Linked DNA regions of Homo sapiens: all the other regions are linked to region 3. The links come from fine-mapping of genetic effects on gene expression. A gene starts in region 3. Each other region holds a variant in brackets. All regions are shown on one strand. Distances are from middle to middle.

Evidence for each region. PIP is the estimated chance that this variant, and not a neighbour inherited with it, causes the effect.
Region 1: its variant is fine-mapped to the expression of FAM53B in whole blood (TOPMed, PIP 0.95).
Region 2: its variant is fine-mapped to the expression of FAM53B in whole blood (TOPMed, PIP above 0.99).
Region 4: its variant is fine-mapped to the expression of FAM53B in whole blood (TOPMed, PIP above 0.99). The same link has a PIP of 0.9 or more in putamen.

Annotation. Positions count from the first base shown.
Region 1 is chr10:124,693,482-124,696,160 of GRCh38, forward strand. FAM53B (family with sequence similarity 53 member B) reads right to left here. Exons shown (of 5, transcript NM_014661.4): 3 at 2,677-2,679. Among named protein-coding and RNA genes, the nearest start is that of FAM53B-AS1, 9.2 kb to the right of the region's middle. The variant C/A (reference allele first, on the strand shown) is at 1,038.
Region 2 is chr10:124,651,269-124,653,947 of GRCh38, forward strand. All of the region lies in intron 4 of FAM53B (family with sequence similarity 53 member B), which reads right to left. Among named protein-coding and RNA genes, the nearest start is that of FAM53B-AS1, 51 kb to the right of the region's middle. RefSeq lists an enhancer at 1-35. The variant C/T (reference allele first, on the strand shown) is at 1,055.
Region 3 is chr10:124,742,795-124,745,473 of GRCh38, forward strand. It overlaps FAM53B (family with sequence similarity 53 member B), which reads right to left and starts at 1,584. Exons shown (of 5, transcript NM_014661.4): 1 at 1,219-1,584. RefSeq lists silencers at 463-542, 633-842, 1,163-1,322, 1,373-1,482, 1,503-1,552 and 1 more.
Region 4 is chr10:124,619,689-124,622,367 of GRCh38, forward strand. It overlaps FAM53B (family with sequence similarity 53 member B), which reads right to left. Exons shown (of 5, transcript NM_014661.4): 5 at 1-2,679. Among named protein-coding and RNA genes, the nearest start is that of FAM53B-AS1, 83 kb to the right of the region's middle. RefSeq lists enhancers at 521-650, 2,003-2,503. The variant C/G (reference allele first, on the strand shown) is at 1,191.

The DNA of each region.
Region 1 (2,679 bases), 49 kb before region 3:
AGAAAAGCAGGCACACCTCAGATGAAATCTCGCTGCCTGGGTGGAGTGCACTCCCAGTTCATGGAGCACACGGAGGACTGGAGAGGTAACCTGAGCTTCCACTAGACAGAGTGCACGGGGTAAGGCTCCTGACTGCTGACACCCGCTCCGCTCCAGCAAGCGCAGGAAAGGGATAGAGGTGGGAGGGAGGATGTGTGCTAGTGTGTGGCCGTCTCCTTAAATCCTCACAACTTGCAAACTGAGGAAACCTAGCCGGGAAGATGGGGTGGTATCCCCATAGCTCAAGGGCCTCCACATCTCACGGGAGTTGGCCTAAGCAGTGCAGAATTCACTGTTCGTTGATCTTTCTCCTCCACCAGACAGAAAGCTCCCTGAGAGAAGGGGCAGGGTCTGATTCACTCTATCCCTCACCAGGTGCCTGACACACAGCAGGTGCTCAAGTCATATCTATGACAGCAAGCCACTGAAAATGAAAACAAACTGCAGTCAGTGAAACACGTCAGTGATGCACAGCCATGCAGGTCAGGGTTTTCCTGAATTAGGGAGGGGCCGACCAACAGAAAGATGAGACCCATGGAGAGAGAGCAGCAGAGGAGAACAAGGGGACTCCACAGACCTCCCACCAGTACAACGGCTCCCCGCTTCTCCCTCTGCTGCCTGGCAGTGCCCTGGCACTGTCCCACAGAGCAGAAGGAAGACAGGACCCTGCTGAAGAGGAGAAGAGCCTGGGACGGAGGCATTGGGACCCAGCCAGCACTTCCTAAAGAGCCACTCTGTAAACAGGAGTCTGCAGACACAGCGTAGTCCCTCCTGGAAACCATGGCCTCCCCGGTAGAAAGCAGGTTGCTGGGCTCTGCAGCCTCCGATAGACTCTCCTGGGCCATCTGGACTTTTTCCCACACACCTCCCTTCTCCGGGGCCTCTGCCTTGGTCTCTGGGCCTCAAGACCTGGCCCTACAAGGGCGACTCTCTCTGTCATCACAAACCCACCAGACTTCCACCTTATTATAACTTACACAGTGCAAAGACTAGAAATC[C/A]TTGAAATAAAGACCAACATCTCCACAACCCAGTTTACTGGTCTGGCCCGGTTGACAGCTAAAGCCTAGGCAGGGTTGAGGGGCTGGGCATGCCGGGGCCTCTCTCTTTCCCAGCATGACGCAGGAAGGAAGCGCAAAGGTGAGGTTGTCCCAGGAAGCAGGCGAGGAGGCAGGCTTCTGAGCTATGTGTCTGGGGCCCTGAGGGTTTGCTGAAAGCTGTAAACCACCGGGGAGGTATTCAATCCTGTGGGGACGGGCCTCCCAAGTATGTCACATGGAAAACCAGGGCCAGCTGATCTCCCTGTCTCCATCTTCTTCAGTGGCAGCATCAAGAGCACCGCCAGGTGTCCCAGAGCCATGGCAGGTGGTTGAGAAGAAAACAGTCTCCCTTCGTCACCCACCTGAGTCCAACTCCGCTTACTGAGGGACCTTGCAGAGGGCCACCTCACTAGACCTCAGTTCTCCCGTATGTGAATGATGCCACTGGCAGAGCCAGCGGGGCCCAGCATGTAAGGAGCCTGGCACAGTGCTCAATCTGACACATCACCTCATCTATGGCAACTGTATCTGAAGAAGAAAAACAAAACACCGCACATGGAGGGAGGACCGAGAAGGAAAGGCAAGGGAGACTCTGAGGTCTGACCAAAGTAACCTTTGAATCTGAAAGCCCACAGTCATCATCATCTATCATCTGAGAGTGGTTTCTGAGTCCACGCAGACGTTACAGAAACTCATCCGGCAAGACGTCCCCAAAGGTGGGCAAGGAGAGCCACAGAGAGACACTGAGAGGTCAAACAATGCCCAATCATCTGAAGCATCAAGTAATCAATGGTCATCTTTTTTACCGCCTATAAAAAACAGTAATTCACACTTGCACAGAAACAGAAGATCAAGGCAATCTTCTCTGGAAGGCATGTCAGCAAAATGAATCAAGAGCCTTAAAAATGTCCCTGCCCTCCAGCCTGTCTATTCCACTCCTGGAAACTATCCTAGCAAATCATCACAAAGGCAGACAAAGAATTAGGCACTTACCTAGCCACTGTTCATCACAACAGCAAATAAAACAGCCTCTTGACCCAACAGCCTAGATGTAGTTACATCACTAAAGACATTCTGATACATTTACCACCCAATGCGGTACTGTAGACCATTAAAATGCATGGAATGAACAATTTTAATGCTGTGGGAAGATGATGGTAACTACTCCAAGTGAAAAAAGCAAACAAATATAGTTTTACATAATTATATGTTCATCGTGGAATGGGCTATATAAAAAATGCTAAGAACATAAACATACACAAAAATATCAACAGTAACTCTCCCTGGGCATTGGGGCTACGAGAGATTTTTATTGCATACTTTACACTATTGTGCATTTTCTGAATGAAAAAAATCAACATGAATTACTTTAATCATCAGACAGAAATTCTCAATGTTGGAGTTGTAAACCACACACCAGTGCCTGTCCCTTCACTCAGGCACCGTAGGGGACCAAAATAGTTAAAACACACAGAAGAGTCCCGGGGCTGCTCTTTTTGAACTTGTGTCCAGAAAGTGCTTTGAGTGTCTCACCTGGAGGACTCAGACCCTGGCTGGAAGGACTAGGAGGACAGCTTCCAGGATGGCCTTGAGTACTTACCCA
Region 2 (2,679 bases), 92 kb before region 3:
CCAGGGCCCTAACTCAGTTCCCTCGTGTTCCATTTCCCTCTGCACCTTCCCAAAGGTGCAGAAGGAGGCTGGAGGGGTGCGGCTGAGCAGAGGGTGCTGCCTGGCATCCTCCTGAGCCTGCTCTGCTCTGTCCTCCCAGCTACACAGGACAGGCAGGGATGAAGCTAAGAGGGCTGCCAGGGGAGGCAGTATAAAGGCATGCTGTGGCCCCTCACTGCTGAACTGCAGGCACTGTAGCAGGGAGCCCAGCCGCTGGACGGAATCACAATCCCACACACGGCACCAGGGACCTGGACTATGCACCCCACTCCTCCTGCTGCTCTCCCCTGCCACCCCCACCTCCGAGACAGTGAGGCCCAGCGGCCTCCTCATTTCCTCCTCAGGGGAGCACTGTGGAGACTGTCAGCTGACTTCCGACCCTGGGGCCTGCCTGCTCTGGAGGGTCAAGGTCAGCAGAGCCCCACAGATGTCTAGCCCCTGCCTCAGGTCGGCAGTGACTGGGCACTGGCACATGGCGGGGACACGCCACCCCTGCTGTCTACTATGACTGGGCCTGGAACGTTCACGCCAGCCCCAGCGTCAGGACAACTGCGACTGAGGGCGGTTCTCAACCCAGACAGCCTTTGCTTGCTGGTTCCTTTATTTGTCCCCCATCTGTGAAGCATCTGTGGTCCACCAGGTGCTCTCCTGAGCAATGTGAACTCAGGGGCCAGGAAGCGAGGCCCCTGCCCTCCAGGAGTCCCTTTCCAAAGGGCATACCTGGAGAATTTCAAAGCCAACATCAAAGTGTGATAAGCACGAGCATGCTTTTGAGGCTGGAATTATCCCCTCTAGTTTTTCATTTATAGTCCTCTCTTCCACTTGGGTCCCAAGACTTTCCCAAGTTTGTCCCTGCCGGTGTCCAGCAATGGTTATGAAAACCCGCAGAGGGAAAAGCTATCAATTCCCAACTGTTTCTACTCAGTAGGTGTCAACCATAATACCAGGGCTTAGGACTAGCCAGGGTCTTACCATGTGCACAATACGTTCACATCCAGCCGTGCCCAGGGGTGAA[C/T]TGAGCAAGGAACTCATGCCCAATTCACAGATCAGGAAACTGAGGCCCTGGGCAACACCGGGATGGGCTGAGTTCATGCTGTTGTCAGGTGTCAGAGGAGGCTGTGGCCACAGCCTTAGAGAGAAGAAGGGGCCCGGCCCACAGCTGCACTCACATCTGGTCCCAGCCTGTCACCCACGGTGATAACCCTGGGTGACCATGGCCAGCCACTTCCCTCCTCTGGCCTCAGTGGCTTCACCTGCAGAGGCAAGGGGTCCAAGGAGGTGAGTGACATTCAGTGTTTCCTGGTGCTCACATTCCAGGGCTATCACAAACACCAGTCCCACAGGTAGTGGGAAAGGACAGTATGTATTTTAATGACACAAGGAAGCCTTGTGGTGGAGGGCCTGAAGCAGCAGCATTCCCCATCTGTCCTATATGGCTCCAGTTCGGGGTCCACTTCCTTCAATATGGAAGGTAGCAAGAGTACCCAGGGAACGGCCGAGCAAACCACAGAAAGGCAAAAATCTACTAGCTGGAACCCTCAGGCTAGTCCCCAGGGCAGAGGAGCCTCTTGCCTCTCCAGCCCACACAGGCAGACGACGCCCTGTGTTGGTGTGTGCTCGACCAATCAAAGGAGCTGTAGACAAAATGGCCCTACCTTCCCTTGTGCACCCAGATGCCTTGGCCAGGAGGAGACTGTGCTGCCAGGCCCTAAGAGGTAGGACCCACGTGCCCTTGAGGCCAGGACAGCATTTTTCAACCAGGTCCCGGAGGGCTCTGCAGATAACTAAGTTAAACAGAGCCTTGAGGGCTGCCTGCCTCACCTCATGTGCCCCAATGACACTGGTAGGGCCTTGCTCTTCAAAAACTATTTTGATAGGATTTTTATCCCTGCTCAGTGAATGGGGAGAAGCCCATAGGCTTGGATATGTTTCTCAGATGCAGCCCCAAGCTCAAGGCCAGCCAGGAGGTAATGTCCTCCAGATTTCCAGAAGAGCTGTGCCTGAGGCTGGGACAACCAGCTTCCTTTATGCCAGGAGGGTTGGAGTAAAGCAGGGGCTTGCCAGAAGGGCTCTGGCGTGGGGACCCTGATGGACTCAACAGGGGCATCTCACAGAGCTGAAAATACCCAGGCACTGCCAGGGTCCCGGATGGCCAGGCCTCACTCTCCGTGTTACACTTTCAAGAGGTCTTGCAAGAACAAGATGGGCTGCGGGCCCCTGCCAGGACACTGGCCCAGCTGACGGCACTCATCTGTAGGGCAAAGAGGCCCAGCTGGGTCTCGCTGGCACAGTGGGGTCAGACTCATGAGCCAGACTTGGGTCAAAGCCCTCTCTTAACCACTATCTTCTCAGGGTAACCTTGGCCAGGACCCTCCCAGTCTCAGCCTCGCTTTCCTTGTCCACATGGCCCACGCAGAGCCTATCTCAGAGGGATCCTGTGAGGAAGAAATGAACAGGATGCAAGAACGCACTTTGGGACCTCCAAGGTGCTGGACAGATGGGGGAGTCCATGTGTGGCCAGGTCTGGAACACCTGCTGCCCAGTTCAGGGTTGATGCCAGCTGGATTCTCCAGCTTCTTTATACTGACCAGTGCTGTGCAGAAACTCAGCTAGAAAGCCCCAGGAGCCCGGTCCCACCTG
Region 3 (2,679 bases):
CCCCAGGATCCCAGACCCGGAATGCAAGCCATTCCGGGGGCCACTTTCCTAACACCACCGAGTCCGGAGATTGTACCGTATGGAAGACTCGGAGTGTGGCCTATAGGAGGCAGAATCCCATTCATCAAACGCTGCAAAGAGCTTTTCTTTGTTCACCATCGTCCTAAGTACAGTACGTGTTAATGAGCCCGGGCGGTCAGATGGAAGGAGCTCGGCTTCAGGGGGCGTCCGAACGCGAGGGACCCGGGCAAACCTGTCCGCGCGGTTCGTCGCTGCTGCGGCGCCCCGGCCCGTACTACAAGCATTGTTCCCCAAGTCCGAAAATGGGGGTGGAGAGCTGGGGGCTGGGGGACAAGGTGGGGGGGCGGGGGGAGCGAGAACACACTTGGGACAACACAAACCGCAAACCCTCCCCGGATTCTGGGTGTCCTCGTTTCTTTCGTCTCTGCCCCAAGAGAAACCCTGAGCGGGGAACCTGACTCCCACGGGCTTGCAAAATCCAAGACTAGCAAAAATGTGACTCGACCAGTGTGCCTGTGCCGGACGGCCCTTCTCGCCATGTGCAAAAGCCACGCCGGCGCGGACGCCCCCACTCCGCAAGCCCCAGCGGTGGCCTCCCCGCGGGCTTCCCCCGCCCGGGACAGAATGCCCCCTCACCCCCATCCTGACCGCCCCGGACAGTCCAGCAGCAGCGGAGCCCGCCGCCTCGCTCCCGCACCCCGGGGGTGGCGGGTGCAAACTTCCGCGAACAAAAGAGTTGTCTGCAAACGATGCGGGAACTTCGGGGCGAATGGGGCCGCCCGGCTCCCGAGACTCCGCGCCTCCTCCGCAGCGGCTAGTCAGGGCTCAAGTTGAGACGCGGAGAGGACACCCCCGGGCGCAGCAGTCCCCGCGCCCGCCCGCCCTGGCCTGGGGAGCGCAGACTTTTCCGCCGCAGCCAGGCTTGTTCTTCCCCATGCCTGTGCTCTGACAAGTCTCACGCCTGCATCAGGGGCGAGACCGAGCGCCCGGAGAAACCGCCCGACCCAACCCAAAGGCGAAACAAGGCAGAAAAAAAGGAAACCAGCAACATTAGGAAAAAAGAAAAAAAAAAGGCAAGCCCATTGCGCACGCGAGCCGGGCTCCCTCCAGCCAGCGGCCGGGACGCACACGGCCCGGACCTCGCTCGGGGCCAGCCCCCCGGCCACCGCCGCCGCCGCCCGGCCCCGGGTCGCTTACTGTGCGCGGCGGGGCGCTCCGGGCGCGGACCCCGCGCCGTCACCGCCAGCGCTCGCCAAGTCGTCCGGGGTGCCCGCCGCGCGTCCGCCGCGCGCACGCTCGCCTGCCGGCGCCGAGCGCTTTGTACGAGCGACTCCCGGGGAGGAGGAAATCGACTTGTCACTTCCTGAAGTGTTTGCAACTCGTCCCTTTAACCGGCACCGGCCAGGCCGCCCGCACCCGCCGCCGCCGCGGAGCCGCCAGACCGCGGCTGCGTGAACTCGGCCCGGCGCTTAGCGGGCGGTGTCGCGGGCCCGGGCGCTAGGCGCGGCGGCGGCGTGCAGGAGGCAGGCGGCGTGCGGCGGCGGCGGCAGGCGAGTGTGCAGTGCGCGCAGCCGCCGATGGGCGGGGAGTGAGGGACTCGCGGCGCGCCGCCGGCGGGGCTAGAGGGCGTCCTGCGGGCTCAGCCGCGCGCCGCTCGCCGCGCTCGCGCCTGCGAGGCCCCGGGACGCGGGAAGTGGCCCCGGGCCTGGGCCGCGCCACCGCGGCTGCCCGGGCCCCGCGCCAGAGGCCCTACGGGCTTCTCTCCCCGCCCCCAGCACGAGCCGGGATGAAAACGCTGGGCCGCATAGGCTTCAGGCGTCCAGCTTCCGGGTTGTTAGATGCCGAGGTTCAAAAGAAACGATCACTTCAGTGGCGTGCAGGACAGCGGGCGGGTGGGGTCGGGGAGGGGGGACCTTAAAGTGTTGTCACACTTTGGGAAAATAAAGCGCAAATTTCCTAACTCGGGGCGCTGTGACTGTGTACTTCAGAAGCCACATCCAAAATACATGCAACTGGCGAAGGAAGGATTTGTGGTTGCTAAGCAGAGGCAGAGCATGTTTAGTTCTGTAACTTAGGATGTTGACTTAAGTTCAGGAATGTAACCCTGATAGAATAAGCAGAGTATTTTCATTGTGCTGCTCACCTGGGGGAGGGGGATTGTTTTCCTTGTGAAGCCCTAGATTTCCCATTACTCCTTCCTACTGGTGTATGTTATTTTATTGACCTTGTATCCAAAAAGCGATTTTTAAAGAGAAGTTTTTTTAAAACTCCCTATGCCTGTTTTGTGTTCTCCTTTGCCAAAAAAACAAAACACCTCATTACTTTACATGGATTGTGTCTGCGCCATTTGAATGGTTCTATTCATAAATAAGGAAACTTTTTCTGTTGCTTCTAGGAACATTTAATTGGTTTTAATCCAATGTTTCAATCCCAGTATCAAACATAAATGAACAATTAACTTCTTGAGCTTTGTGTGCTTGGGAAACTATTATATTTCATGGCTATTGCTGAAATATTTCAGAATATCATCACACCGGACCCATTCTTTTCAGAAAAGCATGAACTGACATCTCCTTTCACACTACAGCTCGCTCCACTGAGTTCTGCTGCATGATTAGAATGGACAGCAATCAGTGGAAAGGATATGAGTCTATTCAT
Region 4 (2,679 bases), 120 kb before region 3:
TTAAAGAGGCATGACAGAGGGGTTTGACCAACAGCGTGGACATGGCAAGGTGTGGCATCATTGCCAGTGTGGGGCCAGAGGGTGCCCGAGCCCCGGTGCGCGGCCAGCCTGCTGCATCCCTGCCGGCTGACGTCTGGAGTGACCGTCATTCCAGTGACCACCCCCATAGCCACAGACGGCACGTCAGTGGAAACGGGGGTGCAGCAGGCATGACACCAAGGCAGAGCCCGCAGCAGGGGGCCCGGGGTTCCACAGCTAGGGAAGCTTGCTCAGACAGGCAGCACACCCAGGGCACGGCCACTCACGCCCCCGCACCAGGAGACCCATTTGGAAGTTAGTTAGGGTTTGTTTTGTTTTCTTTTTAATGTGGACTTCCCCTTTATTTAAATTTTCTTTCAGTGTACAAATTCACAAAACTGGCTACAAAAATTTGGTTGAAAAGTAAGGCTTTCTGAGAATGAAAATCTGTACGTCTGGTCAGAACAAGCTCCCCACGGGCCCAGGTGCACGTCTGCCCGTGCAAATCCGGCCTCCACCGCGAGTAAGGCAAGAGGGTATGGCAACGAAAATGGCAAGGCTGTGGCCCCAGCCCCTGGGCCCCACGGGTGGACGGCAGCCCCTGGCAGTTTGGTGGCTTTGGAATGAGTGGGGTGCATGTGGCACTAAGCCCCCCCCACCGCCCCGGCTTTCCTGCAGGCTTAGCCCGCGCTTTAGGACCCCATGAGCAGGCAGATGGCCTGGCACGGCTTGCTTCTGGCTCTGCCCTTCCTCAGTCTCCCCTCAGAGGCAGGGTTTGTGGGCAAGGCTGTGACAAAAGTAAGGCTCCTGCCACTGCCCCCAGCTGGGGCCATCATGCTGGTGGGGGTGAGCTGTCTGCCTGCTGCCCATGGGGACACCAATGTGGGGGGCACCTCCTAGGCGAACCTCCCTCCCAGAGGACTGAGATCAGAAGTCCTGGGGCCAGCAGGGTGGAGTGCAGGAACAGGCTGCTCCGGGCAGTGTGGCAGCTTGGATGATGGGGTGGCACCTTATAGATAGGGTCTACTCCCTCCAGTCAAAACACAAACATGAAACCAGCTAAAGGCCATTTCTTTCTCTAAGCAGAAGGGATAGCCACCATTTTCTCCCCTGACTGCTGCGTGGTGGGCACAGGACAGGCAGGCGGGGTCTGAGGAGGCTGGGTCATTTCT[C/G]CCTAAGCGCCCTGGGGCTGGGCTTGCTGGTCGATGGGACCAGCTTGCGGGGAGGTGGGGAGGTGGCTGTGACTCAGCCAGCTCCACAGCTTGTCCCTTCCTGCCACCAGGCCTGAATGGGGAGGTGGCAGGCAAGGTTTGAGGGCAGGTCACCCACACCCCAGTCCCACGACATATACCTGTCACCATGTGCCTCCCACCCCAGCCCTAAGCAAAGGTAGCTGGGGGCTGCTGCATGCCTCAGCCTCAGCTGGCACCGTCCACCTCCCTCACTGCCTCTGCCTTCCACAGGAAGGCCTGCTATAGAGGCTGTGTGCCCTCGGCCACACCGGGCATGTGGTGCCAGGACCCCCCACGCCCAGTGGTACTCCGGGGGCAAGACATGGCCATGTGCTCTCCACATTCACCCAACAACTGCCCTGGCCGCCTCCACATTTGCTCTAAGAAGACATGGTCTCCATGACCCCCAGGCAGGGACAGGCCAAGATGTCTCTGTCTGCTCAGAGCCACCAGCTCTTGGGTTCGGCTGTCCGGGATCACAAGTAGACATGCCTCCGGCAGGAGCTACAGCAACCAGAGGTGAGCTGGTTCCCCGGCTCTGGGACCTGCCCAGTGCCCGGCATACCCCATGTGTCAGCCACCTGAGCTAGCAACACCATCTCTCAGGGCTGTGGGGCTGGGGGCTTTCTGCCAGCTCCTTAAAGCTGATTTTTAAGAAGTGCCACCCACATATTGGGAACTTGAACCACCATCCTTTTGATGTAGTAAAAAAATAAGATTTAAACAACGTTTCCCAAAAAGCATCTTTCTTGAGGAGAAAGAAGGTGAGAAGCATCTGGACTCAACCTGCAGAAGCGAGGCGTTCACTCGTCCATGAAGACGAGCAAAAGCAAAGTGACTACAAAAGTGCTTTGAACGCGCGTGTCAGCCAACACAAGGGAGCGCACCAGTTATTTTTAGCCTTATGGGAAAATGAGCCACTTGCTCCTAAGCCAGCCCAATTGCTATTGTTTGCAGAAGACGCCACATTCGCTAAAAGCCAGATTCCCATAGAGCAGAGCCCATGTGGTGGTGTCTGCAAGGCAGCCGGAGAGGAGCTACAAACCTTGAGAGGAGAGCAAACCCTCAGGGGGCTAGGCTCCTCGGATGCCCCAGGGTGAGGAGCCAGGGTGGGGTAGGGGCAGGGAGCATGAATCCAGCTTTGTGCCGGTGGCTGGGCCTACAACAGAGATGCAGCCCTCAGGACTGGGCTCCCCCTAAGCTGACAAGGGCGTGGGCTTGTCTTGAGGTGGGTGATGTGCCCTGGTTACAGCCAGCAGTCCTCAAGGACAAACGGGAGGTGCCTGGAATCCTGCAGGGGCCCCTGCAGAGTGGCCAGCGGACGCCCTTCACCCCTGAGTGCGCATAGGGCCCTCATCTGCCCACCTGCTCGCAGCTCCCGTCTCCCGAGGCCGTTTTCAAGAGGCTGCCCTGGTATCGTGCCATCCCT